Linked DNA regions of Homo sapiens. The protein of the gene in region 3 purifies or fractionates together with the protein of the main gene of each other region. This does not show direct contact. Each region holds a gene or a part of one and is shown on either strand. Other genes may lie near its edges.

The links.
Region 1: the proteins of ZBBX (region 3) and LRP4 purify together in Homo sapiens (affinity purification with mass spectrometry; 2 studies listed by BioGRID and IntAct, with this or other methods). This does not show direct contact.
Region 2: the proteins of ZBBX (region 3) and SORL1 purify together in Homo sapiens (affinity purification with mass spectrometry; 2 studies listed by BioGRID and IntAct, with this or other methods). This does not show direct contact.
Region 4: the proteins of ZBBX (region 3) and HERC1 purify together in Homo sapiens (affinity purification with mass spectrometry; 2 studies listed by BioGRID and IntAct, with this or other methods). This does not show direct contact.

What each region holds. Positions count from the first base shown.
Region 1 is NC_000011.10:46,873,548-46,880,570, forward strand, and holds part of LRP4 (low-density lipoprotein receptor-related protein 4 precursor), read right to left. Parts: intron 5,769-7,023; coding exon 5,579-5,768; intron 5,492-5,578; coding exon 5,360-5,491; intron 3,793-5,359; coding exon 3,652-3,792; intron 3,284-3,651; coding exon 3,197-3,283; intron 3,091-3,196; coding exon 2,919-3,090; intron 2,420-2,918; coding exon 2,257-2,419; intron 2,135-2,256; coding exon 1,909-2,134; intron 1,557-1,908; coding exon 1,253-1,556; intron 870-1,252; exon of another isoform or gene 47-869; coding exon 1-46. UniProt on the Homo sapiens protein: Mediates SOST-dependent inhibition of bone formation. Functions as a specific facilitator of SOST-mediated inhibition of Wnt signaling.
Region 2 is NC_000011.10:121,447,556-121,455,313, forward strand, and holds the start of SORL1 (sortilin-related receptor preproprotein), read left to right. Parts: upstream 1-4,758; 5' UTR 4,759-4,776; coding exon 4,777-5,061; intron 5,062-5,119; exon of another isoform or gene 5,120-5,412; intron 5,413-7,758. UniProt on the Homo sapiens protein: Sorting receptor that directs several proteins to their correct location within the cell. Along with AP-1 complex, involved Golgi apparatus - endosome sorting.
Region 3 is NC_000003.12:167,377,289-167,384,581, forward strand, and holds the start of ZBBX (zinc finger B-box domain-containing protein 1), read right to left. Parts: upstream 3,010-7,293; 5' UTR 2,959-3,009; intron 2,505-2,958; 5' UTR 2,350-2,504; intron 1-2,349.
Region 4 is NC_000015.10:63,634,938-63,641,960, forward strand, and holds part of HERC1 (probable E3 ubiquitin-protein ligase HERC1), read right to left. Parts: intron 6,707-7,023; coding exon 6,533-6,706; intron 5,509-6,532; coding exon 5,215-5,508; intron 3,840-5,214; coding exon 3,774-3,839; intron 3,600-3,773; coding exon 3,474-3,599; intron 2,707-3,473; coding exon 2,568-2,706; intron 1,206-2,567; coding exon 1,024-1,205; intron 1-1,023. UniProt on the Homo sapiens protein: Involved in membrane trafficking via some guanine nucleotide exchange factor (GEF) activity and its ability to bind clathrin. Acts as a GEF for Arf and Rab, by exchanging bound GDP for free GTP.

The DNA.
Region 1 (7,023 bases), on a different chromosome or scaffold from region 3:
TCGCCCGATCACTGTCTCCATGTTGCTGCCGTTCAGGTCTGCTCGCCTTGGGGAGAGCCCAGTGTTGGATGAGCAACCAGACTGACCCAGAATAGAGTAGAACTTTAACCCATGTTCCCATAACTGGACCCCACTGAACTGTAAGCTCCACAGGGATAGAGACCAGGTATCTATGAGTACATTCCTCAGCACCCAGCATGATAGATGTTCAATAAAATAATTGCAGAATGAAGGAACCAGTTCTTAGGAGGACACAGTATTTCCTGCTAACTGGACATAGTGGCGGTTGCCAGGGGATGTCTTGCTAGAAGACAAGTTTATCATTCCCCACATACCTTTGGGAAGAGACAAGGATTGCTAGGTGGTGATGATAAGAAACGCAGATTTGTCAAAACCAACCTGTGCATTTTTTAAAAGTTAAAAACAATTTTAAATACAAGTAGATATGAGGTTTCATTATGTTGCCTAGGCTGGTCTTGAACTCCTGGGCTCAAGCAATCTTCCCGCCTTGGCCTCCCAAAGTGCTGGGATTATAGGCGCGAGCTACCACGCCAGACCCTAATTGTGCACTTTTGCAAAGGCCCTATGGGCAGGAGGGAACTCTACCTCAGAATGGGGAGCATGTCACTGTCACCTAGGGGACTTCCCTAAACTGTATATGCCTACCTGTCCCCAGTTTGAGATTCTAATACATCCCTTGGGGAGAGCAAAGGGGAATGTTCCCTGTTCCTCCATGTGAGAATATCTGCCATGGTAAACCACTCTTACTGGTGGCAGGACATCATATTCCTAAGCTGTGTTAGGGCCACAAATTTAAAGACTAAAAATAAAACAACGAAAAAATAAAAAACAACAGCTTTGTAAACCACCATAAGACTTGGCATTTGATTGGGGCTCCTTTACTGCAATACAGATACTGGTTATATGGCCTACTCATCAGTAAGTCCTAGGGGATTCTTGGAGCTCCCTCAGGGCACAATGGTAGATGTGAAAGTCTCCAGGTCCCCTGACTTTACCTGTTTTTTTTGTTGTTGTTGTTTGTTTTACATACTAGGCTTCCATATAATCTCTAAACAAATGAAAGTTTGAAACTCTGCTGTAAGTGACAACACTACAAAGTGAACAAGTCAGGATTAAAACTCACTATCCAAAGTGCCAAATCACTCATCCATTTAGTGGTCAGAACACAACCTCACCCATGGGCGACCAGAAGCAAATCTGTGTCTTCTGGAGGTTTCAGTGTTGCTCATACCTGATAACATCCAGGAACACATCTGTGTAATAGACCTTTCCATCCACGCTGTCATAGTCCAGGGAGATGACATTGTTGAGCTCAGGAACAGGGACATGCACATCGGTGTGGTCACTGGTGTCCAGTGAGATACGCCGGATGGAGCCACGGCTGGAGAAGAGCAGGTAGGTCTCAGGAGAGGGATCACAGGTCTTCCCATCTCCCTTCAGCTGGATGCCAGTGGGGCAGGCACAGGAGAAGCCAGAAGGCCGAGGCAAGCAGAGGTGGGAGCAGCCGCCATTTCTCGAGCCGCACTTGTTAAAACCTGGTGATGAGAAGCACAAGTATTCACACCTAGCCTGGAACATCATCTGAATCTTACAAAGGTCCCAGTTGTTTGTGGCTGGCTCTTTGCTGTTCTAAGTGACAGGATTCAGTGCCTGGCAGGGTGAGGTAGAAGGAGGGTCTGCAGGAGGATCTCCAGGAGTCCTTTGAAGGTGACAGCTGTAGTACCAGCCATACCCAGAGAGAACACAGCCCAATCTGGAAGGGAGCTTAAACAGGTCACCGTCTTTCTGGCTGTAAAGGAGCTCTGTGCTCTGGATATATCTCTGATGTTGAGATGGCCCCAGAAAGCCAGAGGCTCTGACTCACAGCCCCAGCCCTCTGACTCTCACCTAGTGGCTGTGCCCGGTCCACAGCCTGCATGTCCATGAGGCCTGGCAGGTTGGACCTCACGAGGATGACATTGCTGCCAGTACCCTTGTCAGCACGGTGGATGCTCCGAGTCTGCCAGTCAGTCCAGTAGATATAGGAGTCGAGCAGGGTGAGGCCATATGGGTGCTGCACCGGTGACACCAATGTATGCCGATTGGCACCATTCAGGTCAGCAGCCTCAATTCGCTGCAGAGGAAGGAGAGGGTGGGGGGTGGTGATCAGCAGATTGGGAACTCTCCATGGAGATCCTAGGCAGGCCTTTCCCATCTTCCCAGGCTCCTGGGAAGCAGCAGGGACACGGCTCTCACCTCGGTGTGGGCATCGGCCCATAGCAGTTGGGAGCTGGCCTTGTCCACAGTCAGTCCATTGGGCCATCCTAGGTTGTTGTTGATGAGCACCGCGCGGTCTGAGCCATCCATTCCGGACCGCTCTAACTTGGCATTCTCCCCCCAGTCTGTCCAGTACATAAACCTGAGTGAGGAAGAATATTAGCTATATTAGCTAGTTATTCCAGCAGCTACCACATACCATGAATACTTAACAGTATGTCAGATACACTTGAGTACTTACAGTATGTCAGGCAAAATTTTTGCTTGACAAAGTACTTTGCAAAATACTTCATGTGCATTATCTCAACCTTCATAAGGGCCACAAGGTATGTATTTTCACTACCACCTCCATTTAATAGGTAAGGAAGCTGAGAATTAGAGAGGTTAAATACCGGACCCAAGTGATATAGCTAATACATGATGAAAACATTTCAATCCTGGTATTCTGATTCAAGGCTCATGCTTTTAACTTCTACACTGTACTGTCACCCTGCGAGAAGTCACAAGAGAGTGGAAGAGCCCCAGGGAGGTCACCTTGTTTCTGTGATGCAAGCTTCCTCTCCACTACCCACCTTTACCCCGTCATAACCCCAGCTGAGCTGGCCCCCCACACTACCCAGTGCGATACAGCCAGCTCTCACCCCATCTCATGGTACAGTACGATGGCCCGGGGACTGTCAAGGTTCTGCCACACCAACACTTTCCGCATGGACCCGTCCAGGTTGCCCACTTCAATCCGGTTTGTTCCCGTGTCTGTCCAGTATACTTTCCGGCCAATGGCATCAACCGCGAGCCCATCTGTGGTCTGTAGCCCTGTGGGAAGTCAAAAGAGCACACTGGCTCCTATTTTAAAACAGATGGGCTATTTCCCCAGCCCTGTTGCCAGACAGGTGGTCCCTGGGCTAGGAGGAAGGCCCACCTGTGGTGATGATGTCCTCATGCTGTGAGCCATCCAGATTGGCACGACTGATCCTGTGCAGTGTGCTGTCAGACCAGTACACCTTTCCTGGAGAGGGAAAGCTTGGCTCAACCTAGACCCTCACCGCCTACAATGGGACACACACAGCTGATTCATGTCTTGAAACACCAGAGCATGTCAGAGAGCTCTGGAGCCTCTAGCAGAGGAAATCAAGGAAAACGCAGAAATATCATAGCAGGATAGCTCTTGGCAGAGACGGAGAGAAGAGGGCCCCAAACCATGCTCTCACAACCAAAGAGAGAGTGCTAGAGAGACAGGGACAGGGGCTATGCCAGAGGGAATGGGGAACAAACACCCTGGCTCTTGGCAGGAGACAAAGGTGGTGGGAGAGGAAAGACAGTAATTGTTGAAGGGCAGGGACAGAAGGCCAGGTGGGAAGAGAGGGCCATACAGACCTTCCTGGGGGTCTACTCCAATGGCAATGGTGTTCTTCATGGTAATGTTGATTGGTACCACCACATCAGCAAAATAAGGGATGTCCAGGGAGACCATGCGAATGTCTATCCTCCTGGCGAAGATGAGGAAACTGTTCATGCCTGCCAGGTGGAGAGGAGGGAAGAGGATCACTCGAGCACAGCCATTAAATGGATTTGGAATCAGGCAAACTGAAACTCATGCCCTGTCCCTGCTAGTTTCTAGCTATGTTATTCTAGGCAAGTTATTTAAATTATTATTATTTTTTGAGACAGGGTCTTGCTGTGTCGCCCAGGCTGGAGTGCACTGGCATGATCATGGCTTACTGCAGCCTTGACCTCCTGAGCTCAAGCGATCCTCCCACCTCAGCCCCCTGAGTAGCTGGGACTACAGGCACACACCACCATGCCCAGCTAATTTTTGTATTTTTTTGTAGAGATGGGGTTTCGTCATATTGCCCAGGCTGGTCTGAAACTCCTGGGCTCAAGCCTCTGCCCACCTCAGCCTCCTAAAGTGCTGGGATTACAGGCATGAGCCACTACTCTCAGCTTAAATTATTAGGCCTCAGTTTTCTTATCTATAAAATGGGGACAATAATGGGGTGGCTGTAAGGGTTAAAAGATCATGTACATAAAGCACTTACCATTAGGTCTCACACATATTCATAAATAATGCCTCTTTATTAATATTATGAAAGTGGCTCTCTTTGAAGGACCCTTTACCATGAAGATTAAGAAAGAGAAAAAAAGAAAGGGAATAAAGGGACCCCAGGGGGCTTTACTCACAACCTGAGAGGCACAGTTCACAGCTCCTTTCTCACTCAAATTCCCAGGGAGGTTAGAGTTCAAATGCAGCCTACCCTGCAGCATCTCCTAGGGAGAAGCCTTGACTTCCGACATCTGGGTAGCCAGGTACTGCTTCTGGGACCCTCCAATAAGGTTGTCACATAGGTTGTGCACTCACAAAAGTGGCACATCTAAGGAGGAGGGTACTGTGACATTGTAGATATCATACATTTCTGTTTTTATTATACCAATTTTGGGCAGTTAGAAGTGTCTTTTTTTTTTTTTTTTTTTTTTTGAGACAGAGTCTCACTCTGTCACCCAGGCTGGAGTGCAGTGGCGTGATCTCTGCTCACTGCAACCTTCACCTCCCAGGTTCAAGCAATTCTTCTGCCTTAGCCTCCCAAGTAGCTGGGATTACGCGCCACCATGCCTGGCTAATTTTTGTATTTTCAGTAGAGACGAGGTTTCACCATGTTGGCCAGGTTGGTCTTGAACTCCTGACCTCTAGTGATTTGCCTGCCTTGGCCTCCCAAAGTGCTAGGATTACAGGCATGAGCCACCGTGCCCAGCCAGAAGTGTCTTATTCCAACCAAATCAGTATATTATGACAATGTACTAAGAGATGAGAGGAAAGTGTCTTGAGAAAGGAGCATCTTTATCTAATATGCATGAAGACATCATAAGAACTAGTTGGACCCTGCCTCCAGTCCTTTCTACTTGCTCCCCAGGGCCTCTCCCCAGGCCCGTCCCCTTTTCTAAAAGCCGTGAGTCTCTCCCCTGGGCCTCTAGAAGCAGCAGGACTCATGGTTTCTCAGACCACATTGGAGCCCATCTGCAAGGAAGGAAGAGAGCCATTGCCCCCTCCCAGAGAGGCTGCATCTAGATCTGTGATGCTTTCACTCACCTGGTGAGCAGGTCTTGCCATCAGACAGCAGGTTGATGCCTGTGGGGCAGGTACAGCTGAATCCGCTTGGATTTGGGGACCTAAGACACAGGTGGCTACAGCCGCCATTCTCCATAGCACATGGTGTAGACACTGGGTAGAGAGGAGGGGATGTTCAATGGGGAGAGCTAGGGCATAGGAGGGCCACGGAGAAGCCAATGCGAGCCAAGGGCTGCTCACCTGGGGGCCGGCGGCGGTGGAAGACATGGATGTCCATTAGGTTTTCCAGGTTCTCCTGCAGAGTCTCCCGGTCCAGCCCTGTCAGCCGGTCAGCGCTCTGTATGCTCTTGGTCTGCCAGTCAGTCCAATAGATGCGCTCTCCATAGAGGGTCAGCCCAAATGGGTGGGGGAGCTGGCTTCCAATCAGCACCTGCCAGGGCCCCAACACTGTGTCATCTTCAACAAAGTCTGACAGTACAGAGCAGTGGCAAAGAGCTCACTGTGGACTCAGAAAGCAGCTCTCCCACTAACACCTACTGGGTGACCTCCAGTAAGAGCTACTTATAAAATCTCTCTGAGCCTTGCTCTATCAATCTGTGACTTGATCATGCCTGGCTCTAAGGGTCGTGTGATGGTTTTATTGGAAGATGTTGGAAGTCATCTATTACTCACATCATCTCAAAGTATCTCTGGACAAATTACTTATTAAGTACAAAATTAAAAAATAGCAACTTTACAGTGGACACTACCTTAACCATACAATGGCAGTAAGTATCACAATAACGGAACAGGCCAACACCTGTGTCTACTGATGAGACACACTGAGAACTCAAGGACATGACTTCACTTAGTGTAGTATTCCTGCTGCAAATGCACACTCTGAATCCAATCACAAGGAAACATTAGATAAATCCAAGTTGAGAGACATTATAAAAAATAACTGGCCTTTACTCTTTAAAAATGCAAATGTCCACTTTGGGAGGTCCAGGTGGGCAGATCACCTGAGGTCAGGAGTTCGAGACTAGCCTGGCCAACATGGCGAAACCCTGTCTCTACTAAAAATACAAAAATTAGCTGGGCGTGGTAGCGGGTGCCTATAATCCCAGCTACTTGGGAGGCTGAGGCAGGAGAATTGCTTGAACCCGGGAGACAGAGATTGCAGTGAGCTGAGATCGCACCATTGCACGCCAGTCTGGGCGACAGAGCAAGACTCTTGTCTCAAAACAAAACAAACAAACAAAAAATGCAAATGTCAATAAAGTCACAGAAAAGCTGAGGAAATGTTCCAGATTAGAGAGTAAAGAGACTAGATTAGTTGGGCCCGGTGGCGCACAGCTCCAGCTACTCAGGAGCCTCAGATGGGAGGATCACCTGAGCCCAGGTCAGCATGGGCAACACACCAAGACTGCAGTCTCAAAAAAAAAAAAAAAAAAAGCTATGTGTGGTGGCTCATGCCTATAAACCCAACACTTTGGGAGGTCAAAGCAGGAGGATTGCTTGAGCCTAGGAGTTCAAGACTAGCCTAGACAACAAAGTGAGACCCCCATCTCTACAAAAAATAAAAAAATCAGCCGAGTGGCCTCAAACCCGTAGGCTCCTGAGTAGCTAGGGTGCAGTAGTAGGTGCCTGTGGTCCCAGCTACGTGGGAGGATCCCTTGGGCCAGGAGGTCGCAGTTACAGTGGGC
Region 2 (7,758 bases), on a different chromosome or scaffold from region 3:
TCCCGCCTTGGCCTCTGTAAGTGCTGGGATTAAGGGCATAAGTCACTGTGCCTGTCTGAGGGACCTTCTAAAACTTGCGCTCTCTCACAGGTTTTGAAACACATTGGAAACCAAATCCCTCGCTAAATTCATCTCCTAGAAAAGTATAGAAAACAGGACTGGACTTGTGAGCTTTGTAACTGTAACATTACTGCTAACTTGTCCCAATCAGGGCGTGAGGGTCAAGCAGATACAGCATCTCACCTAGGCTAGGTACCTAGGAAGGGAGACAGTGCTGGTTAAGGCAGGGCTGAGTTGTGAAGGAGGTGAGGCCTACAGCCACTCCCTTTCCTTCTTTCTGCCCTAATTCCCGCTGTTCCACTATACCCAGGACTTGAAATACCAGCTCTTCTCTTCCTAAGAGAGGTATCAGATGTGGCAGAAAAAGGGAGCCTGGGTTCAAATTTATCCCTTACTAACAGTAAGTTAGCAAGCCTGTTTAACTTTAGGCAAAGCAAATAGTCTTCCTTTCTGAATTTCAATGCTTAAGGTCTGTAAAATGGGGGTGACAATAATTCTCGCTTTGGCCCACTTCAAAGGGTTGCTGTGCGATGGAATGAGATAGATAATGCTGTTATAATGTTATGCAAATGTAAATCACTGCTATGCAAAATAACTTACTGCTATTTCCAGAAACTCCTCTTTGGATTTAATTTAATCAAGAGTGAGAATATAAGTTACTTATTCTATGCTCTGGGTGCATTTGTATTTTAAACCTCATCAATTATCTTGGACGCTTTCCTAACTGAAGTAGATTTTGGCAACAGCAGGAGAAGGAGTTATTTCTTTGGGGGCAGGCGGGTATTTCTATTTTGCCTGAGCTGGTGAGGTCAATGGTAGTTATTTGGCCAAAGTAACATGGAAGAGGGAACAATGTTTACCATCCTAAGGGCAGGGAAGTCCCTTTTCTGCTTTAATGACTCTGGTCTGGTTGCGTGACTCAGAGAGGCCTGCTTTGGGGGAGAAAACGAGGTGGGAAGCAGATGGTGGTAAGAAAAGATCTGAGATTCAACTACATTGGCCCCTTAACCAACCATTGCCACCAGGACAAAGGTGGTGTCACTTCTCACCTTCATTTAAATGCATGCATCCTATAAATATCATTGAGTGCCACCATGTGCCAAGAGTATGCTGGGCACTGGGCGTCTAGACTTGAATGAGATAGACTGGTTTTGTCATTCTGCTGCTTGTAGATTAAGAGGAAGATGGAGATTAAGCAAGTGACCAGAGAGGAAGTATCAAAGGCTACAGGGGACTAGAGCCTTAGAGTGAGGGCTGTAACCTAGCCTAGGTGCCTAAGGAGGCTGCTCTGAAACCTGAAGGCTGAATAGAAGTTGGCCAGCCAGGAGGTGAGCATGTGAGAAGGCCACAGGAAGAGAAAGAACAGAAAGAAGTCAAATTAGGCTTTGGGGAGTTTTTTCCTCTTCGTGGCTGTCCTTGCTGCTATTTTAAACATGACTCCACCTGGATAAAAATGTAGGACACTGTGACCTCTGTGTGTTTGTCCTCTACCTCCATCTCCAGTGGCCTAAGATGGGCAGTAGGACAGAGGAGGGCAGTTTAAAGTCTGACAACAGGCTTAAGACTGTTTTATACACAGCTGTGAGTCTATCATTACATTTCCGTGCATGTTGATTTTCGTCATGATGCTGGGCAGCATCCGAGCAAGGCCATGCAAGATGGGACAGAGGGGGATATGGTACTGTCTTCCATCCTGCACCCCAACTTTGATGTTACTTCAGAGGGATAGAGGAAGTGGTAGCTTGTTTACAACCCAGAGCTGGTTTTGAAGCTGAGAGGAACACCTCACTCATATTGCACGATTCAGCTCTAACTCCTGTCCTGGGTGACCTTGCCTGTGGCTGCTCCTATCTCACAACCCAGTGGGGGTCCTGAAGGTTTGGGAGTGGTCAGGGCTGAAAGGTGTCTTTTCATTTAACTTATGAAGAAATCGTAAGAGACAAGATGATCAAGACAAAAAATTACATAATAATTTGGTTGCAAAGCCAGGACTAGAATCTATGTTTCTAATGCCACCTGCATGCACTATTTCTCTCTGGAGGCCTTCACACAAATTTGCACAGCTATTTTATATACTTACCTCATCTGATACTCTCAGCAGTCCTGTGAGATTGGTAGGGATTAAGATCTCTATTTTACAGATGAGAAAACTGAAGCTCTGAGGAGGTTTGGCCAAGTCCCCACAGCTAGAAAGTCAACCTTCTGACTCAGAATTCAGCGTGTCTTCCACTGCGTTCTGTAGTTGTGCAGCAGGCACAGTCTTGGGGGGTTGCTGATTATCTACCTGAGAATGGTTTGGAATGTAGATAATGATTAGATAGGAGGGCTTGCAAGGAGTTAATTAACCATGTTTGAATATTCTTACCAATTCTCTAGCATTCAAGTTGCAAATCAACATCAAAATGAGCAAGTAGCTGGCCCTGCCCTACTAGTCCTTCTGTGCAAGGGGCCATCTGAACCTTAAGCCAGCAGTTTGTGTGGGCAAACAGATGCCCATCTTCAAATCCACACTTAGGAGACTCCTGTCTCTGTTTTCTGCTGGGACTCTGACACTTGCTCTTGCAGAGAAGGTTCTCATTAAATATATGTTGGAAAAACCCCAATAATTGAATCATCTACAGGATGTTCTCACTTTAGCCATATTCCCTTCATTTTCCTTTGAGGGCTAAATGGGAGTAGAGATATCTTTGCTGCTGGTCCTGAGAGACCATGGGGTTGTCCATTCCTGGTAAGGTGATGCTGACCAGACAGAGCTGATCTAGATGAGGGGTGGGAGGTGACAGTGGTTCAGTGGCTTTCTTGGAGGATGCATGATTGTTTGAATTATTATTTTTAATTGACATATATAAGTATATAATAAATATATATGTTATATATATGAGTTAGAGCTGAATTGCACAATATGAGCAAGGCGTTCCTCTCAGCTTCAAAACCAGCTCTGGGTTGTAAACAAGCTACCACTTCCTCAATCCCTCTGAAATAACATCAAAGTTGGGGTGCAGGATGAAGGCACCCCAATAATACCACACTGGGGAAAGTGTGGTATTTTGATACCTGTATACAATGTATAATGAACAAAGCAGGGTGGTTAACATAGAGAATGCATGATTTGCTTGGTGGGGAGAACTGGATGGTTCTGTAATTATGTTGAGATGGACAGAAAGACATCATCTGACTTGGGGAGAAAATCGGGTGTGGGAGGAGGTGGGAGAGTGCAGAACCTGAGGCAGAGGTCCCCAGCAAGTCTGGCATGGGGTAGGGTAGGGTGGTTGAATACTGGCTTCAGGGAGATGAGGCAAGCTGGCCTGACTCTGGCAGGTTGTCAGTGGTAGTCCTAGGTAGAGGAGGGGGCTTTGCTAAGCTACCTGAAAAGTACTAGAGTGGGCCGGGGTAGGAATCGGGCTACCGTGGCTTGTCGGAGATGAGGAATGTTTTTAGAAAATTGAACTGACCATCCCTTCCTTCCCCTGAACAGCAGCTTGTATGCAACTATAAAGGTAGTCTCCCTTTCAGCCCTGCTTGCTGTGTCTTTATTCTTATCAAAAACCAGGATCTGAGTTCAGAGGGCAGTGAAACATAAAATGAAATAGGAAAGGTTGCAGTAGTACATAGACTTTGGCTGCTCCCACTAACCTGCAAAAAAAATATTTTCCTTGGGCGTACCTTAGCAGTTCCATGGCAGAAGTTTTATCTCCTGTGGTTCAGAGAGTTTGGCTCGTCAAGCTGAATGTAGGGTTAAAGTGTGTCCTCCCTCCTCTGTGGGTGTTTGCCTAGCTCCTGGCTGTGGGTTGAAGGGACTGGTAAATATGTCTATTTTACTGCTGAGGCAGGGTGGCTCAGTGCTTGGTCACCTTGGAGGGATCATAAGCAAGCCGCCGCTGGGGCCCTGTGCCACGCACAGGTATTCATGCGTGCGTGCAAGCACACCCTGTATAGCTGTGTAATAATTGTCCAGGTGTGGTGCATTCTTTGTCAGATGTACCCTTGTTTTTACTGCCTCTGTGCAGGATGTTTATTTGCTGTGCTTCAGGCTGGGGCACGTAGCTTGATCAAGGGTAGTTTTTGCTGTGGCCCCTGCAAATACGTTGTGGTGCCCAGAGTAGATGAAAAACTGTGAGTTTCCCAATAGAGCGGGTTCATCTGGACTCTTGTTGGTTGCGTTCTAGGAGCTAATTCTGTGGCTCTGGACTCTTCCCTGGAGGTGGGGATGAGGCCGGGGCCGGGGGGAGGTGGTCTTGTGGCGCTACTGCGGGCTGTGCACTCAGGAAAGTGGCCACGGTTTAGGACGACCTCGACACGACCCTGTATAGGACGCAACTAACTCCAGAGAAAACGAGCGAGCCCCATGCAACTCTTCATTCCTGCAGGGAGAACAAGGAGGTGTGCCCGCCAGGGAAGGGACGCACCCCCACCGGCGCTCGCTGCCTTAACTTCCCCATCCCCGCGCCAGGGAGGGGCCGGAGTCGCCGCCGAGGCCGCCGAGCGCAGAAAGTGCGCGAAAGGGACGCGCTGCGAGCCTCACACGTGACGGCGCCGCGCCGAACCGAGCGGGACCTGGCGGCAGCGGCGGCGGGCGCAGCGGGGCGGCCCGGAGCGGCGCGGGCGGCCTGGAGCCCCGGGAGCGGCGCGCGCGGTCCCGGCCCAGCGGCTCTCCTGGCCTCGCGCTGCACATTCTCTCCTGGCGGCGGCGCCACCTGCAGTAGCGTTCGCCCGAACATGGCGACACGGAGCAGCAGGAGGGAGTCGCGACTCCCGTTCCTATTCACCCTGGTCGCACTGCTGCCGCCCGGAGCTCTCTGCGAAGTCTGGACGCAGAGGCTGCACGGCGGCAGCGCGCCCTTGCCCCAGGACCGGGGCTTCCTCGTGGTGCAGGGCGACCCGCGCGAGCTGCGGCTGTGGGCGCGCGGGGATGCCAGGGGGGCGAGCCGCGCGGACGAGAAGCCGCTCCGGAGGAAACGGAGCGCTGCCCTGCAGCCCGAGCCCATCAAGGTGTACGGACAGGTGAGCAGTTTTGCAACCCGCCTCCCTCCAGTTTTTTCCTCTCCCTGCACTTCCTCACCCCCGCATCCATCCGTTGCAGTCGCCTCCTAGGTGCAGGCACCACTGGGGACTTCCCGGCTTGCATTTGTTTTTTTCCTTCACGAGTACAACCGTCAGCACTTGAATCGCATTGATCTTTCCTTCTTCCTGTCGATTTAGTAAACGTATTCCAGGTAACTCGCCGGGTGCAGTGCGTATTACCCCAGGGTGTGTGCAGAGAGATGTAGTTTCCGGCAGGTATAGGAGGGGTGCAGCTTCATTTTACATCTGGATAAAAAACGGGCTTTCTTTAGTGTATCATCAGTTGGCAGTGGAGGCGAGCACCCTGCAGTTGCGGTACACTTACACAGAACAGCACGAGGTGGGGGTTTCCACACTTAGCATTATTAGCACAATAAAAGTGGGCAAACCTGAAAGCTTGTCGACTATCTCTGTACAGTCAGACAAGAGGTGTGTGTATGTGTGTGCGTGTGTAAAGGCTGAATTTTTAATTTTTAATTTTTGGCGAGCGTGTGAGATGCTCTCCATTCCTTCTTCCCCACCCTTCAAGATGCTGACTCTCCCACCCCCGTCAAGATAACTTTATTTTGGAGAGGAATACCCCTCATGGCACTTGGAGATTTGAAAGGACTGCAGGAAATTTGGTGGGCATTATTATTCTATAAGTGATTTATTTCTACCCAGGCAATAGGTTTATTAGATCATAAGTAACGTGAATTTCACTTTTATGGTCAGACTTACTGCGAGGAATTGCAGATGGAGTTTGTAGGTTAGGATCAGCACTGGCAAAATTAATTTGACCGTGTTATTGCCTCATGAGACTCCCAGTCCTGCAGTTAAGATTGACATCAGCAAAAGTATAAGGTCGGTGGGGGAGAAAAAGTAGGACCAGAGGAGGGGGTAAATACACTTGTTTTCTAGAGTCAAATTGTTCCTTTTGAAGTAGAAATTATTAATAAAAGATTACCCTGAGTTCTGCCTTTTCTCACTAATTTCACTTTAGCCATTTCTTCAGGAAATACAGAGTTAAATGTTCAACCCTTGGATCCAGGACGAACCTTGTAAACATATCACCCTATTGTGTCATTTTGTTGGTGAAGAAACTGAAGCGTGGAATGGTGAAGTGACTAGTCCAAGGTCATACCGGGAAGGTGGCCTGCTCTCTAGTTTTTGTCTGCATTGTCTCAGTGACCTTTGCTTGACTGCAGTCACCCTGTCTTTATGCAATGCTGCTGAAATACCTCCTTTCTAAAATAAAATAGATCTGGTATAAAGGGGGAAAGGATGGTGGTGACTGGGTGGGAGCGTTGGATTTCCCTCCACTATTGGTCCCTGGGCAAGAATGTGTGCCCCAGGGCATGTAACTAATGGTGGCCACAGGCTGCAGGAACCTGCATGCTCAGTTCCTCTTGGGCCCAGATCCTTGTCCCCCTGTCCCCACCCCATATGACAAATATGTGTATGAACAAAAAGAAGTCATCAAGGTCCTTGCTCTTAACAGCGACACCAGCATGGGGCTGATGGAGGGTGGGAGAAGGAGGAGGAGTGGCCCACTTCTTCATTGGGCCTCCGCAGTCAGCCCAGCTCTGCTGTGCTCTTGAATCAGCATTCTGGGAACTGGGAGTTGGGGGCTGGTGGGAGACAATCCCTCCCAGTGCTCAGGTCCCCTGAAGCTATAGTTTAGGTTGAGGAAAAAGTTTTCTGGTTTCAAAAATATGTGTACATGTGCCATTTCTTTCTTGGGTTTGGTTTATGAAAAGCTCCAGGGGATGTGGGGCAGGTTGGACATGAACTCTGTTCTCACTGGGAGTGACTCCCAAACCCTGGGCTTTTGAGTTTCTGGGCCAGCCAGATTGAGTTTGGTTCAGCTGAAGGATGGAGAACTAGCAGTCAAACTCATAATGAGGAATTCCTAACCGGAGGGTGAGGGTACAAGGGTGAGATTTTTCTTCTCTGTGGCTGCCTTCCTATGCCATTGTTGCCTCTTGCTCTGAGGTTAATAAGAAGTGGAATTAATTTGAATCTGTAAGGATTTGAGTCAGATAAAAGGAAGAACTTCCCTGTACTGGGCTTTCTGCCACAAGTTCTATCTGGTGCAGACCCTTCAGAATGCAAGCACAGGTTGGTGACTGAAGGGGTTTGAGGTGCCCCTCTTGGAACTCTGGAGTAACTAACATCTATTTGGAATGATCTTTCTAGCAAGGATGACCATTGCCTCTGTGTTTCCCTGGGGCAGACCTGGTTTCTAAGTTGTCTCTGGTGGTTATGAATAGCACCCCCTTCACTCTCAAAAGTGTCAAGATGTGACAATAAATTATATGGTCCTACTTTTAGCCTTAAGCCAAGTTCCACTTTGTAATCACGACTTTCCCCTTCAACGTTTAAACCTAAGGAATGGTGATGTTTTCCAACAGTACTGCTTGACTTGAGTGTGGTTCTATGGAGGTGCAGTGAGCTGGGGAATAAAATTTCATTCCTGCTTTTAGGAAATTTACAATTTAAGGAGGAGAGCAAGCAGATGCAGATACAGGCATGTCAATGTACCAGGATGGGAACCAGGAAACATGGTCACAAGAAACCAGCCACAACTCTACAATGGTGTGATAACGGGCTGTGTGACATGCAGCGCATGGGAGATGGAGAGATAAGGGGTGGTGG
Region 3 (7,293 bases):
AGAGCATTCAGCCAGAGGTGCAAGAGAACACCATTGGCAGAATGGGAGGTTTGGGAAACCACTGTTTACAAGATGGGCCACTTTTTGTAACTGAAAACTTATCTAAGTTTAGTTAATTCTTCTAATGACTCAGATCATGCTAGGCACAAGACTTAAAAACCATACCATAAATAGGGATTTTCCCTTACTGTAGCAATATTTTGAAATGGTCTAATTAGCAAACAACTTTGGGTGAATTAACATGTTTAGGCATTTAGTACCATAGTACTTAGAAATCAGAGACCCAAGAAAGAAATGTTAAATGAGAATTTAAAATAGTTGCTTTTAATAATTAAAAGAATTTTACTTTTCACATTTCTTCTATCTGTAATTATCCTTATTTTAAATATATATATTTTTTAAAATATTTAAAAAATTATAAGGCAAGAACTGATAATACATGATTTCTAGAATAGTATCTTGTGCTGGAGTGTCCTACTAAATAAATGTGTGCCACATTCTCATAGCAAAAGCTCTAAAAGTAAAGCAGGTATTGATATAGTTTGGCTGTGTCTCCACCCAAATCTCATCTTGAATTGTAATCCCCATAATTCCCACATGTGGTGGGAGGGCCCTGGTAGGAGATAATTGAATCATGGGGACAGTTTCCCCCACGCTATTTTCGTGATAGTAAGTTCTCATGAGATCTGATGGTTTTATAAGGGCTATCCCCTTTCACTTAGCTGTCATCCTTCTCTTTCCTGCCACCATGTGAAGAAGGATGTGTTTGCTTTCCTTTCTGCCATGATTATAAGTTTCCTGAGGCCTCCCCAGCCCTGCAGAACTGTGAATCAAACCTCTTTCCTTTGTAAATAACCCAGTCTTGGGTATTTCTTCATAGCAGTGTGAGAATGGACTAATATAGGTATTGACTTCAGGTTGCATTCAATCTTTCAGCCAAACAAGATATCTGATAGTAAAATACTGCTTCAAGGTGCTAAATGGTACCCAAGTTGCCCATTTTTTATGCTCTATAGGCAGGTTCTCTTGAGAACAACTGAGAAACTTTGCCTTTAGATATCAAGGGACAAGATACCATTTTAAAATACTTTTGATTAAAAATAATAAACAATATTAAAAGGCACTGAATTTAAGGTCAGAAAACCTAGGTAGACTAAATTCACTGGATTTAAAGTCATAAGATCTTTGTGTGATAGAAATCTCTGAGCTTCAGCTTATCCATGTAGAAAATGGTAAGGATCCTCTCCCCCTCTAATTTGCAGGATATTAAACAAAAGGTGTCTGATTTGTGACTTGACTTGTCAAGCTGTGGGCTTCTATAAGACCTCCAGAGAGCTCACGGTTCAGGGAAAGGGGCAGCCTTAGAAACTACCTAGAGAAGGCACAGCCTTAGAAACTACCTAGAGAAGAAAATGGAGCATCAAGATTGTGCTTTACCCTTAGCATCTCTGCTTTCATCTTTTTTACATAATGAGCTTTAGTGTTTACCTCTCTGCTCACCAAGTTTTATTCTACTCAATGCTCAATTCGAAGGCTGCCTGTATCATGAAGATTCCCTCCATCGAAACCGAGCTTCTCCTTGTATAGAAAGACCATGTTTATTAAACTCATTTGCTATTGTATGTTACCTTGTGTTATTTTTTGCATCTTTGTTTATATAGATTTTGTTTCCCTAAGTAGCCCAAATATTTGAGAGTGGTCCTACCATTGACCTTTGAAACCCCAGCAATCAATACAGTCCCTATACATAATGTAGTGCCAATAATAATGTGCTAAGTATGTAATTTTTTTTCTACTGCTTTTAGTTTTTTGCACAACCTACCCTACGGAAAAAATTAAACACGCCCTCTTTCCCACTTCAACTAAACTTTTTGTTTTCTTTTTTCCATGTTTCCTAACGATCTTGATGAGCAATCAACAAATATACATTGAACACTCTCTCCCTGCCAGGTGTCAGGTTAAGCACTGAGGATCAAGGTCAACCAGACAGGTATAATACCAGTCTTCACTGAACTTACACTCTGGTGAAGGAAGTAGGTAAAAATTAAAAAGCGAATAAAATAATTGCAAGAATTATTAAGTGTCTTGAAAGACATAAAGGAACTACTTTCAAACAATTCATTTGTAATACAATTGGTAAAATTATGACAGGTCAGGGCAGCCCTCTGTGTAGACTATAAGATAAGCTAAATTGGAGAAAGGCAGAGGGAGTCATTACATTTGCATAAGCATACAGTTTGTATAATTTTAATCCTGTGTAGTTTCAACTTTACTATATTTTTTAATGAGCCTTGTTAACTTTAGATTTTAAGTCAAGCTATAAAATATATATAACTGAACCTTACATACCTGAGTCCCTCTACTGCTGATTTTGGGAAGAAAAAATAAACTTCCACATCTTCAGATTTCTCAGGAATCGGGCACCCCGCACCATAGCCCTTACTTGTGAGGAGTAGACTTCAAGAAGTAAGTGGGTGCATGTGAACGCGCAGGCAGACTAAAGGCTACAAAAGGGGATGAAATATGGTTTCTCAGGGTGCCAAATTTTTCATAAGGTGCAAATGACTTCAAAGGATAAAAGGGGCTAGTATTTGAAAGGGTCGGGCTGCAGAAGGGGTACAACTGATGAAGTCCCCAATTTCACTGTCTGGGGTTCACTCTTGATTCATTTATCCATTAGCATTTTGGGCTGGGAAGTCTTTGGTGTATACCAAAGGCTTTCAACTCCTGAGGCCAGGGCCCCGTCCTGCTGCCTGCAGGCCTGGCACTATGTCAGCCTATGGCAGGGGCTCAGCAAACACTTGCTGGGCCGGTGCCTCCAGCTCCACCCGAGCTGAGTCTGCTTCCCAGCCGCGCTGCCCGCTCTGCTCCCCGCACCAACTAGCCCGGGCTTGCTGCCCGCTAGGCGGACTCAGAGACCATCCTCCCCTCTCATCCACCCGCAGACAGACAACCCACCTGGAGACCCCAGCCTCTCGCGTCACCACCGCCGGATGGCCGCGGATAGCTGCCGGGAGTTTCCGTCTTGGTCTCCTTGGTTACCGCGTTACCTCGGTACCCATAGCAACCAGAAAGCTGGGTTCTGCCACTGTCCGCCGGCAGAGGGCGAAAAGGAGCCTGCGAAATGAGAGAGAATGGTGATCACAGGAAGGAAAAGGGCGGAAAAACTCAACAGGCTCTGGAAGCTTTCCGCCAGAGAGGATCTTGGAGATTATGTATGTGCTAAACCTGAGCATGTGTCATATTCCAAGCACAAGTGAGAGACTTATATGTCATATTTGATTCTTCCTCATAGCAAGCCAGCTTAAATCTAAAAAAATTAAGGCACAAAAAATTTGACTATCTTAATCCAAAATTACAAAGCTAGCAAATGGCAGACCTACAAATTAATTCAAGGAGTTTAGTCTCAGAACTCCCACATTTATGCTATGTTTAAATGATTTATCAATGGCTACCATAGGCAAAGTCAATAGAGATTCCAGGTCTCTTCAAAAGTCCAGAACTCTCTTTTCTTTGTACCGAATACATGACCCGTGGAGTCTAATGGGTATAAAACAAAAAGCAAAAGCAAATATATGCACACACACACACACACACACACACACACACACACACACAGTTAACCCACAATTCTCAACTCAACTCTTCCGAACAAAGCTGCACCTGTAGTGAATTTATCTTTGGCTTCCTAAATATGCTGTTTTTTATCTCCCTTTTTAAATACTGCAAGTAGGATGTGTGGTTGGTACTGCACTGTATAGGCTTCTATGCTTAACCACATTGCATCTGTCTCGGTACCAGACTAACAATCCTAACTATTACAGTTAATGTACTAATCTTTACACCATTACTTTTGACATTACTATGCCTGCCAATACCCATTTAAAAAAAAATAATGATTTCACTTGGCATATTCAATTATATAAGATTACAACCACTATGGATAAGAGAAGACAATGGTAGTCTTCTGGTTATAAGTCTGGATTTTGGAGTCAGGCAGATTCAAGATTGAGTGCCAGTACTGCCACAACTTACCTGCTGTGTGACCATGAGCAAGTAACAATGCTCAGTCTAACTGCTTAAATGAGATAACAGTACAGTTAGTCCATACGTAATGTAGTATGGAAGAGTAAATGAAACAATAAATATTAAGTATTTAGCTCTAAGCCAGGCCCATATTGAGTGCTTAATAAACAGTAAGAAACAGTGGTGCTGGTGTGGCTATGATGGTTGCTATTAACGTGTTCATGGTATAACTTTACCACGTCCTTCCTTTAACTTTAATACAAGAACTAGTTTCAGGTGGATGTGCGATACTACTGGTTTTCTTGCACAGACTATTTCCCATACAGGCGCGCTCTTCAAATTACCAAAGATATTTTCAGCTTTCGTCCATTTACTGATCTATTCATTTATTTATTTATTCCACAAATATTTATTGAAAGTCCATTTCCTAGATCCCAAAAATACTGGAGTGAAGAAATCGTCAAAGCCCCTCCTATTTTCAAATATATTTTAACAGGAGCAGAAAGGCAATAAACAAGTATAAATGCATGTCAGCTGCTATGAAGAAAACTAAAGCCAAATAAAGAAATAGAAACTAATTGAGTTCTGTTTTAGGGTAGATGGCCAGGGAAGTATCTGAATGCAAGGAAAGAGAAAGACATGGGCCACTAGAGGAAGAAACAGTCCAGAGAGAACAGTAAACACATGTCAATTATGTCCCAGTAAAGATTATTTTGCAAATAACTTCTCCTCACTTCTACAAAGGACTTTTACTCCAAAAAATGATTCTTACAATGCATTTACTTACACAATAGTAAAATTAAACTCATAAAAATAATGTATAAAGTATTCTTGCACTTTTTGAAAGCATTAAAAGAACATTATCTTATATTTAGAAAAATAGCTTATGCACAGTTATGAAAAGGCAAAGCAGAGACAAAAACTAAGCCTATGCTAAGTCACATAGTAAAATAAAAAGTATGAAGTGCTTGTCTTTCAGAATGATGATTAGTGACAAAATGAAATGAAACATGTCAAAACAATTACAGCTCTAGAGAGATGATATTCTCTCCACTGAAGTAAAATGCGTTTAACTGGCACACCAGCAATGCCGCACACAGTTTACCACAACTATATCAAGAGCACAGTATTCCTGAGGGTTTTTCCAAACTCATGCTTCTTTGTGCCACAGTGGAGACAAGGTTTGAATACAAGTTTTCTGAACTGGAGATATTCAATTTAAAGAGATAAAAATTACCGGCAATGCAGAAATTAAGAGCACAGATTTACATGACTCATTTTACTAAGCTTGAAATAAGGGTCAGGGACTGTAAACAAGCATTATCCAAAACTTAGAAATAAGGTAAAGCCAAAAACAGCATGTCTTTTCAATGCCATACTAGAATACTGTTTAAGATAATCTGAGCATTACATGATTTTCTAAAAAAAAGTGTTGCTTTTCTTATCATTAACTATTGATAAAGTCTCTGTGTAATGTTGTATGTTTATTTGAAGATTTTTTCACCTGCATTTTTCATATCATTTGTATCTGGATATGTAAATAATGTCTTTCCTTTAAATAAAATAATTTCAAAGCTAATGGTTTTATTGCACTATACAACTTTAACCAGTTTTGTATCTAACCTAGAAATCTCATACTAATATTTTATCTCAATTCCTATATACAGTCAGCTACCAAATTTTCTTTGAACCAGCTTTACCATTCTAATAATTCCGTCCTTAATGAATTAAACTGTATCACATGTATATTCTCTACTTAAAGAATATCTTGTTTTTAAGTATTGCAATTATATTTTGATAATACCAAACCTTTGGAAGAAAATGGGACAAATATCATATCTGCAGCTTTCCAGAAGTATTCTCTCAATTTCCATTTGCTCTTTGGCCCTTCAGATTCTTTTATAGGCAAAAGTTTGTGGGCATTTCAAGGTAGCAAAACCAAATTCCTACCATCTCCTTTTTTACAAGCCCTGAAATGTGGTTTTACTTTTACATGAAGCATCTACTTTCTTTATGCCTTGGTAAATGCTAAATATAACATCCTATTACATATGTATGGGGTTTTTCAACTTGTCAAGAAAACTGAGCTTTAGAGACAACATAAAATTACAAAAAATCCTTAGCAAAAACCAAATTAGTATGATATAAATATATTTAAATGCATCCGAATGGCTAAACTTGAGGAAGAATAAAAAGAAACTTAGAGTTAAGAGGTGACATTGGCCTTTTATAATTTTTCTCGGCTTTGTAATTTCTGCCTATCATCCATGACACAGAATTTCTAAGCAAATAAATTTTCATAACACAAGGCAATTATTACTGATGCTTCACAAATGGAGGAGAATCATCAGGGCCTATGATAAATTTTCGATTCCTGCAATGTGCAGTGTCTTCCAAATTGAAAAATAAATGTATAGCCTTGTTGAATGAGCATAGTTAAATTTAATCAACATTTATTCAACACCTGTTCTATTCCAGGCACGGCCCTAAGATAGGTACAAAGGTGAACAAAGACACCGTCTCTGTCCTTGAGTAATTCAAGTGAGAGTTTGCAACTAATTAATATGTAATGTATTAAGTACTACGTTCAAAAAGAATGGGAGCATTACATGTTTGTGGCATGGGCAGAATTTCTAGTTGGTTCAAACATAGTATATGTGGCAAAAAGATAAGAATGAAAAGTTGTGCTAGGAGCACATTAAAAAGCACTTTGAATGTTACCCTATTCACAATGGAAACTGTGAAATTTTCTTTTCTTCTCTCCTCTTAATACCCTCAAATAATTTTTAAAGCAGATCTTTAAGCATCTCAGTATGTGTATAGCCGCATCTTTCAAGGGTAATTCTGGTGGCAATGTAAAAATAGAGCAAGTGGAAAAGAGGAGGACAAGAGACACTTTTAAAATATGGTTATATTAGTCCAAGATAGAAATAATAAGTCTTGAATAAATCAAGGCAGAGGGCAGAGGCCAAGTGAAACAGTTTCAAAGGATTTTGTAAACTCTCAATAGGGCTTGGAAAGTACAGATACATGGTTAGCTAGGAATATGGAACAGAGCTGCTTGTCTCTACATTTGATAGCTTGGTAAATAAGTAGATGGTACTGATAACCAGCCGTGGAAGAGCAAGAGAATAAATAAGCTCACAGAGAGTGGGGTCAAGAAGGCAGGGCAGACTGAGTTTTTACTTTTGCAATAGCAGTAGGGAGGAATACAAAAATATGACATAGCTCTAGTTACTTAGGAGACAACCATATATATTAGGTTAC
Region 4 (7,023 bases), on a different chromosome or scaffold from region 3:
AAAAAGTAAATCTGCCATTTTTGGTATTAATATAGCAATAAACTTTACATAAACTTCACTGAAAACTGGATCTTCAAAGACCAATGCTTTTAAAAATTTTTTTTTTTAATTTTTTTTTAAATTTTAAAGAGACAGTGTCTTGCTCTGTCACCTAGGCTGGAGTGCAGTGGTGTGATCACAGCTCACTGCAGCCCCAAACTCCTGGGCTCAAGCAATCCTCCCACCTCAGCCTCCCAAGTAGCTGGGACTACAGGCATGTGCTACCACACCTGGCTATTTATTTCTATTTTTTGTAGAGACAGGGTCTTGCTATGTTGTCTAGGCTGGTCTCAAACTCCTGGCCTCAAGCAATCCTCTTGCCTTGGCCTCCCAAAGTGTTAGGATTACAGGCATAAGCCACTGCATCTGGCCAACTGGTACATTTATCTGCCCAAGTTGCTCTCCTGCTCTCCCAAGTCTGATCTGTCTCAACAGCCTCAGGAAGCCCAAGCTGAACAGCATACCCTGGAGTAACTACTGCTACTCTTCAGCTGTGTACACATGACCTAGACTAAATGAGATAATAAATGGGGAAATTGTTTGTAAACTATAAGGTGCTATACAATCTTACAATATGATTTTAGAACACTATTTTCCAGAAAATGCATGTTAACTTAGCTTTTGTAACATAAATGATAGGTTAAAAGCAAAGTTTTCCTTTTATCTGTGTATTAAGAACTGTGTGGCAGAAGTTAAACCACACAATATTCCTTCCAAGGGCGTGCAGCACCCTAGTCTGGGCCAACCAGCTGGCTCACGAAAAAGACCATTCTAACCAATACTAACAAGACCAATACTAACACCAAAGCCTATTCAAACTTCTGACAAGCTCAAGAATGAATCTGAACATCCAAAACCAATGGATCTCTTATAATTACTGTGTAATATATTTTTACTATATTTTCTGTTACCTAATTTTAAGAAACCTATTCAACAACTAGTATATTTACAATGAAAGGCAAACTTATCCATTTCCTGCCTGACCTGCACCACTTCTTCTCCTTGTAAGGCCTCGATCTGCCTGGGCCGCCGCTGCCTGTCGCTGTTCCCATGGCCAAGTTTACCATAGTCACCATCTCCCCAGCTAAAGACCTCACCACTTTCAGTTAGGGCCATAGAGTGCCCATCAGAACCACAGGAAGTCACCAGCTGGGTCACCACAAAGCCTGGAACAGAACAGAAACCCAACAGGAGTCACTGGATGTTAAAACTCTCCTCTTTACTTGCAGCTGCTACTGAATACCCTCAATCAAAAACCACCGAATTGGTACTATGAAAATAAGAATAATTTCATTAGTTTTTTTTTTTTTTTTAGATGGAGTCTCACTCTGTCATCCAGGCTGGAGTGCAGTGGTGTGATCTCGGCTCACTGCAACCTCCACCTCCCCGGTTCAAGTGATTCTCTTGCCTCAGCCTCCTGAGTAGCTGGGATTACAGGCATGTGCCACCATATCTGGCTAATTTTTGTATTTTTAACAGAGACAGGGTTTTACCATGCTGGCCAGGCTGGTCATGAACTCCTGACCTCAAGTGATCCGCCCACCTCGGCCTCCCAAAGCGCTGGGTTTACAGGCATGAGCCACAGTAACCGGCCTAATTTCTTTAGTTTTAAATTGAATTTGTAGCCATAACCTAGCAAAACTGCGAATAGTCACCTAAAATAATGGTGATGACAAGGAAAACGAGGATGACAGCAATAGTTACAGTCATTAATGACTGGCTATGCTCTAGCCACTCCTATAAATGCTTTACATGGATTATCTCATTTTCTACTTTCACATAGCACCTATGAAACAGATACTAACATCCCATTTTTACAAGTGGGAAAACTGAGTCACAAAGAGGTCTCGAAGCTTGTGCAATGTCCCAGAGCCAAGGACCAGTAGAACCCATAGGAACCCAGCACACATTCTCATCTTTACTGCTGTGCTCTTCACACTCAGATCACAATGAAAAGAACCTGAGCTTCTAGGAACTTGTTTTGAACTCATAGTTACTTGTATGCTTTTACCTAAAAAAACCGTCGGTGCTCTCTTTGTAGGCTTCAGAGTCATTATGAGTTCAGTTAATGAGCAAGCCGGGGGCTTGTACAGTGGTTTCTCCAAAGGTGTTCTCTCTCCAAGTCACAAAGAACTCTGATGAAGATGTCCTTTAAAGTCTTTAGCACATTTGCAGATTTCCATATAAACTGATTTTTAATTTTAATGAAATACATGCATGATTGCTACTGCTATTAACATCTGCCTACTTACACTTTTGCAATTTTTAAGCATTTGTTTACAATCTTCAGTGGGTCTCAAAAAGTGTTATTTATATTTCACTGAATTCTAGCATTGCTATAAGTAACCTGCAATATAGCTTAAAATATGGAAATTAAGGCTGCACACATGCCTAAATAAGGATTTAAATGTAAGTGAAAACCTGATATGATTTTATCTAGCAAAGGTTTGAGAAGGGCAAAGGTTTGTACGACCAAACCTACATTAGGCCTTAGGTTCTAACCATCTTTTTATTAAGGACAATTTTACCTTGTAAGGCTGAAATAACTGTCAGCACATGAAGGTCATCTGAATTTCCTTGTCCTAATCTGCCATAACTTCCTTCCCCACAAGCCAACACTGTGCCATTGGCCTGGATGACAAAGGTACAATTCTGACCACAAATGACCTAGTATAAAAACACAGAATTAAATATTTTATTCTTTATTATATTGCTTTAACATGCAAGCACTTGAAATGATTCCACGTATACATAGAATGCTTTTATAATTGTTTTATCCTTTTACTGAAAGGGAAGAGTTGATATAACTATGCAGTCCCGTAACTCCTTGATGACTATAAAACTGCTTATTTAACCAAGAGATGTATGAGATTCATCCATTTAAAATAGTTTAGAACAACAAAATGGATGAAAGAAAAAGGAAGGGGTGATGGGGAAACATTAAAGACTGGGCTAGAAAGAAGCAGAAACTCGTACATAAGAATGAGTCATGCAATCTGGACTAGCTGAGGTAAAGAAGAGCAAAAGAGAAAGCAGAGGCCTCGAGAAGGGTTTGGCGCTATATCGTACCAGGATTATTAGAAAAGGGGAGTGGTCGATAAAATCTGGCTAAAGATCCTAGGAAGTTTTTAGCCCCAAAGAGAAAATCACTAATTAGGAGTATCTAAACTGCTAGAAATACATACTGGGCAGGCCTAACACATCATGATGTTAGTTCATTAAACTTGAAAGAAAAATTTAGAAATTTGTTAACTTCTTAAGTCTGATAAAAACCACACCAAGTTTTTATTTGAAAGCTATATATCATGACTTTCTTTAATGATTCCTCATAATAGATTATGAAATGGACAAGCTTTATCCCACAATAAGACAAGCAAAAGAATTAGAATTTTCAGTTCCCATGTTTCTTTTCTATTTTTTATCCTGTTAGTTACCTGTTGGGCCTGTGAGAATGAGGGAGCTGCTGCAGGTACCATTACATTTCTTCCAGCTTCTGCCAGCTGTCCATGCCTACCAGCACCCCATAAGTAGACATCACATTTACCTCCCAGGTGCCAGTCCTAGAAAACCACAATCATCTCAAAATTAGAGTCATCCATTCACTCAAACAGCCATGTACTACGTACCAAGTGTGTGCCAGCCTGTATGGGAGACACCAGGGCACAAACACACAAGCATTTAGAATCAAAACATTGACTGAGAACCATCATACAGTTATCTTCATCTTTACTGACCTCAGGTCTGGAAGTTGCCCAAGACATAATTTGTTCATCCATGCCGTTAATCCATTTACTGTTATCCTGAAAAACAGGGGGTACATAATGATCAATTCTGCTTAGGCAAGATGCACCTGCTCTTAACCACAAAGTCCTCTTCTAATCATTAAGTCTTATTTCCAAAAAAGAATATGGTAATATTATGATAAATTAAGAGCAGTTTTATAATTATGTCAAACTTGATTTTATGCACTGTCAGTATTTCCCTTTATTATAAACACTTTCACTATCACTATCACTATGGCATTGGTGATTCAAAGCTAGCCATGTGTTTTCTGAACACCCACAGGTACAAGGTCATGTGGAGGACCCCACACCCCTGTAAACTCTTTGTGTAGCTGTGGGCAAATTACTTCATCTTTCTGGGCTTCAGCTTCCTCATCTACAAAATTACAGAGTTGGGCCAAATGGGCTTAGAAGGACATTTTCTGATTAAAATATTGTATACTTTTGTGCCACGTGACATTTCAGTCAACAACAAACTGCATGTGTGAAGATGGTCTCTTAAGATTATAAAACCTTATTTTTATTATATCTTCTATGTTTACATACACAAATACTTATCACTGTTACAAATGCCTAGAGCATTGAATACAGTCATATTCTGTACAGGTTTGTAGCCTAGGAGTAATCAGACTATACCGTATAGTCTTGTTGCAAGTAGGCTGTATCATCTAGGTTTGTGTAAGTACTATACACTCTATGATATTCCCAGCGTCAAGATTGCCTAACAATGCATTTCTCAGAACATATCCCCATCATTAAGTGATGCATAGCTACAGTTACATAATTTTACTTAATTTATATTTGTCTGTTTCATATTGTATCAATGTTTATCCAAATGTTTGTATACATAAATCTTAAGTATACAAAGAGGTTGTTAGATCATGTGCTGTCCTGTAGTCTAAACAGGTATTTTATCTATGTCACAGTTTCTAGAGTAGACACTCTCAAATACAAACAGAATGAAATGACAATTAGAATGCTCTTCTATATTTTATTTGATGCTAATTAAAGACATGATTGAAATGCCAAATAAATTAGAATCTATATGTGGCATATAACCCACAAGATGACCAGGAAAAGATGCTAAGATATATACAACTAAAGCACTAACAAAGTACCTATGGACAAAAGAAAATGAGAAAATATGGGACTATGTCATTGAGAGGTGGCAGGTTTACAAGAGTTCAACAGTGCTTACATTATCAATTCCTGTCACTATGGAGGCCTGCCATCAGATTGAAAGTGACTATCTGAAAGAAAAATATTTTCCATTTCTCTTAAGGGTATCCTTCTAGCCATGCATACCAGCAAAGACTTATTAGGGGTCTGCTACATGCCCAATACCCATGATAAAATCTCAGCTGCAAATAATAGCAGCTCACAGTACATTTACCATTAGAAATACAAGTTCATCCTCTGGAACAGGTTCTAGATCTGGAACGGTAAAAGATTCTGGAAACTGGGCTCCATTGGTCAGGGCTTCGGCAGCTTTTATAGTGGTTGAGAAACATTCTAACCAGGCCCATTCATTTGGATTCCAGGATGCAGGGTCAGGGAGACAGTTCTGGTGGTGTGGTGGCACTGGAGGGTTACACAACAGCTGATCCAGATGAAGTCCCACAGCAAGGGAAGCCAAGCATTGCATATAGGGGCTATGAACAAGTTGGTCACCACAAACCACATGAGGCTAAAACAAAATACAAGGATATAATATGTCAAAGAGTTTGTGCCAAATATTCTAAATTAACCTACCGTAGTCTGAAAGTCTGGAATCATATTTTTCAAGTTTACTGTTTAAGCTTTTTGCTAGGAAATAATTTTAGATTTAGAGTGAGTTGTACAGATAGTACCGAGGATTTCTGTATACCCTTCGCCCAACTTTATCCAATGTTAACATCTTATACAACCCTGGCACATTTATCAAAACTAACAAACTAACATTGGTACAATACTAACTAAACCACAGAACTTTATTTGGTTTTCCTCAGTTTTCCCATTAATACTCCTTTTCTGCTCCAGGATCCAATCTAAGCTATCACACTGCATATAGTACATTTTCATCATGGTTTTTCTTGATTGGAAAAAAAAGCAGGTAACTATTTAACCACAGAGATCTGCTCTTCTCACTTTCCTCCTTTATAAGAGAATCCTGGTAGCCATCAAAGGAAAAGCAAAAAGCTGGAAGACAGGCTACTTTAGGATCACTGTCTGGACAAGTTCAAACGCTGCAATTCCTCATTCCAGTATTTAATGACCCTACTCAATTCAACATAGCTCTTCCACTAAATTTTCCACAAAGATTTATCTAATAAGTGGAGACGATATTCAGTCTGATACCCGCATCCATCCCTATCCCTCAACTTTGGAATGGCCAAGCCATATAAAAATAGATATATGTGTGGGTCAGAAAAGGGAAGATATTCTGCTGCATAGGTATTTTAAGAAGCTTTGGAGTGAATAAATAATCTGAAAAGCAGTAATACAAACTTGGTGTTTGTTTCTTTATTTTACTCTGGTGAAAATAAAGCAAGAATAGGCTTAGGGTTGCTGAACAACTCTTTTAGGCATGACTTACCTTCATTTGATTCTGCCCAAATAGCCCCACTTATTATCCTCAGACCTCATGCTTTTAAGGGATAAGTTCAAGGCTATAATCACATTCCAAAGCACCAGGTATCTGTGTATCTCTAGGAGTGAGTGTAATGAGTTACCTTTTCATAGGCATACTGCTCCTGAAGCATCATGGGGAGCCGCTCCAAAAATGCTCTCATGCAGGGAGCCATGTTCAATCCCAGAACACCCTGCTGTTTCAATGCTGTCCTACAGGTTGCCAAAACATGATTGGCAGCTGCCCATTCTGCTGTACAATTCACGACCAAAACATCCTGGTTGAAAATAAATCATGCCACATAATAAATTTGTTTAAATAAAAAATAATGCTATCACCATTTAATCTGCGAAATTCCTTCTAGTAACTGGGACATCTTTGCTTTTTGGATATTTTATATCCAAAAAGGCTATGCTTTTAATGCCTATGGAACTTCAAAATATCCTAAATTTTGTCTAAGTAAAAAATAATGAGAAATAATAAAATTTGTGAACTACCTCTGATTAGCTGGTACTTTTTAAGGAAAAAATGTCAATAATTAACTATTTCTTCAGAACCTGCAGAATAAGGCATCTACTATATTTCAAAAGTCAT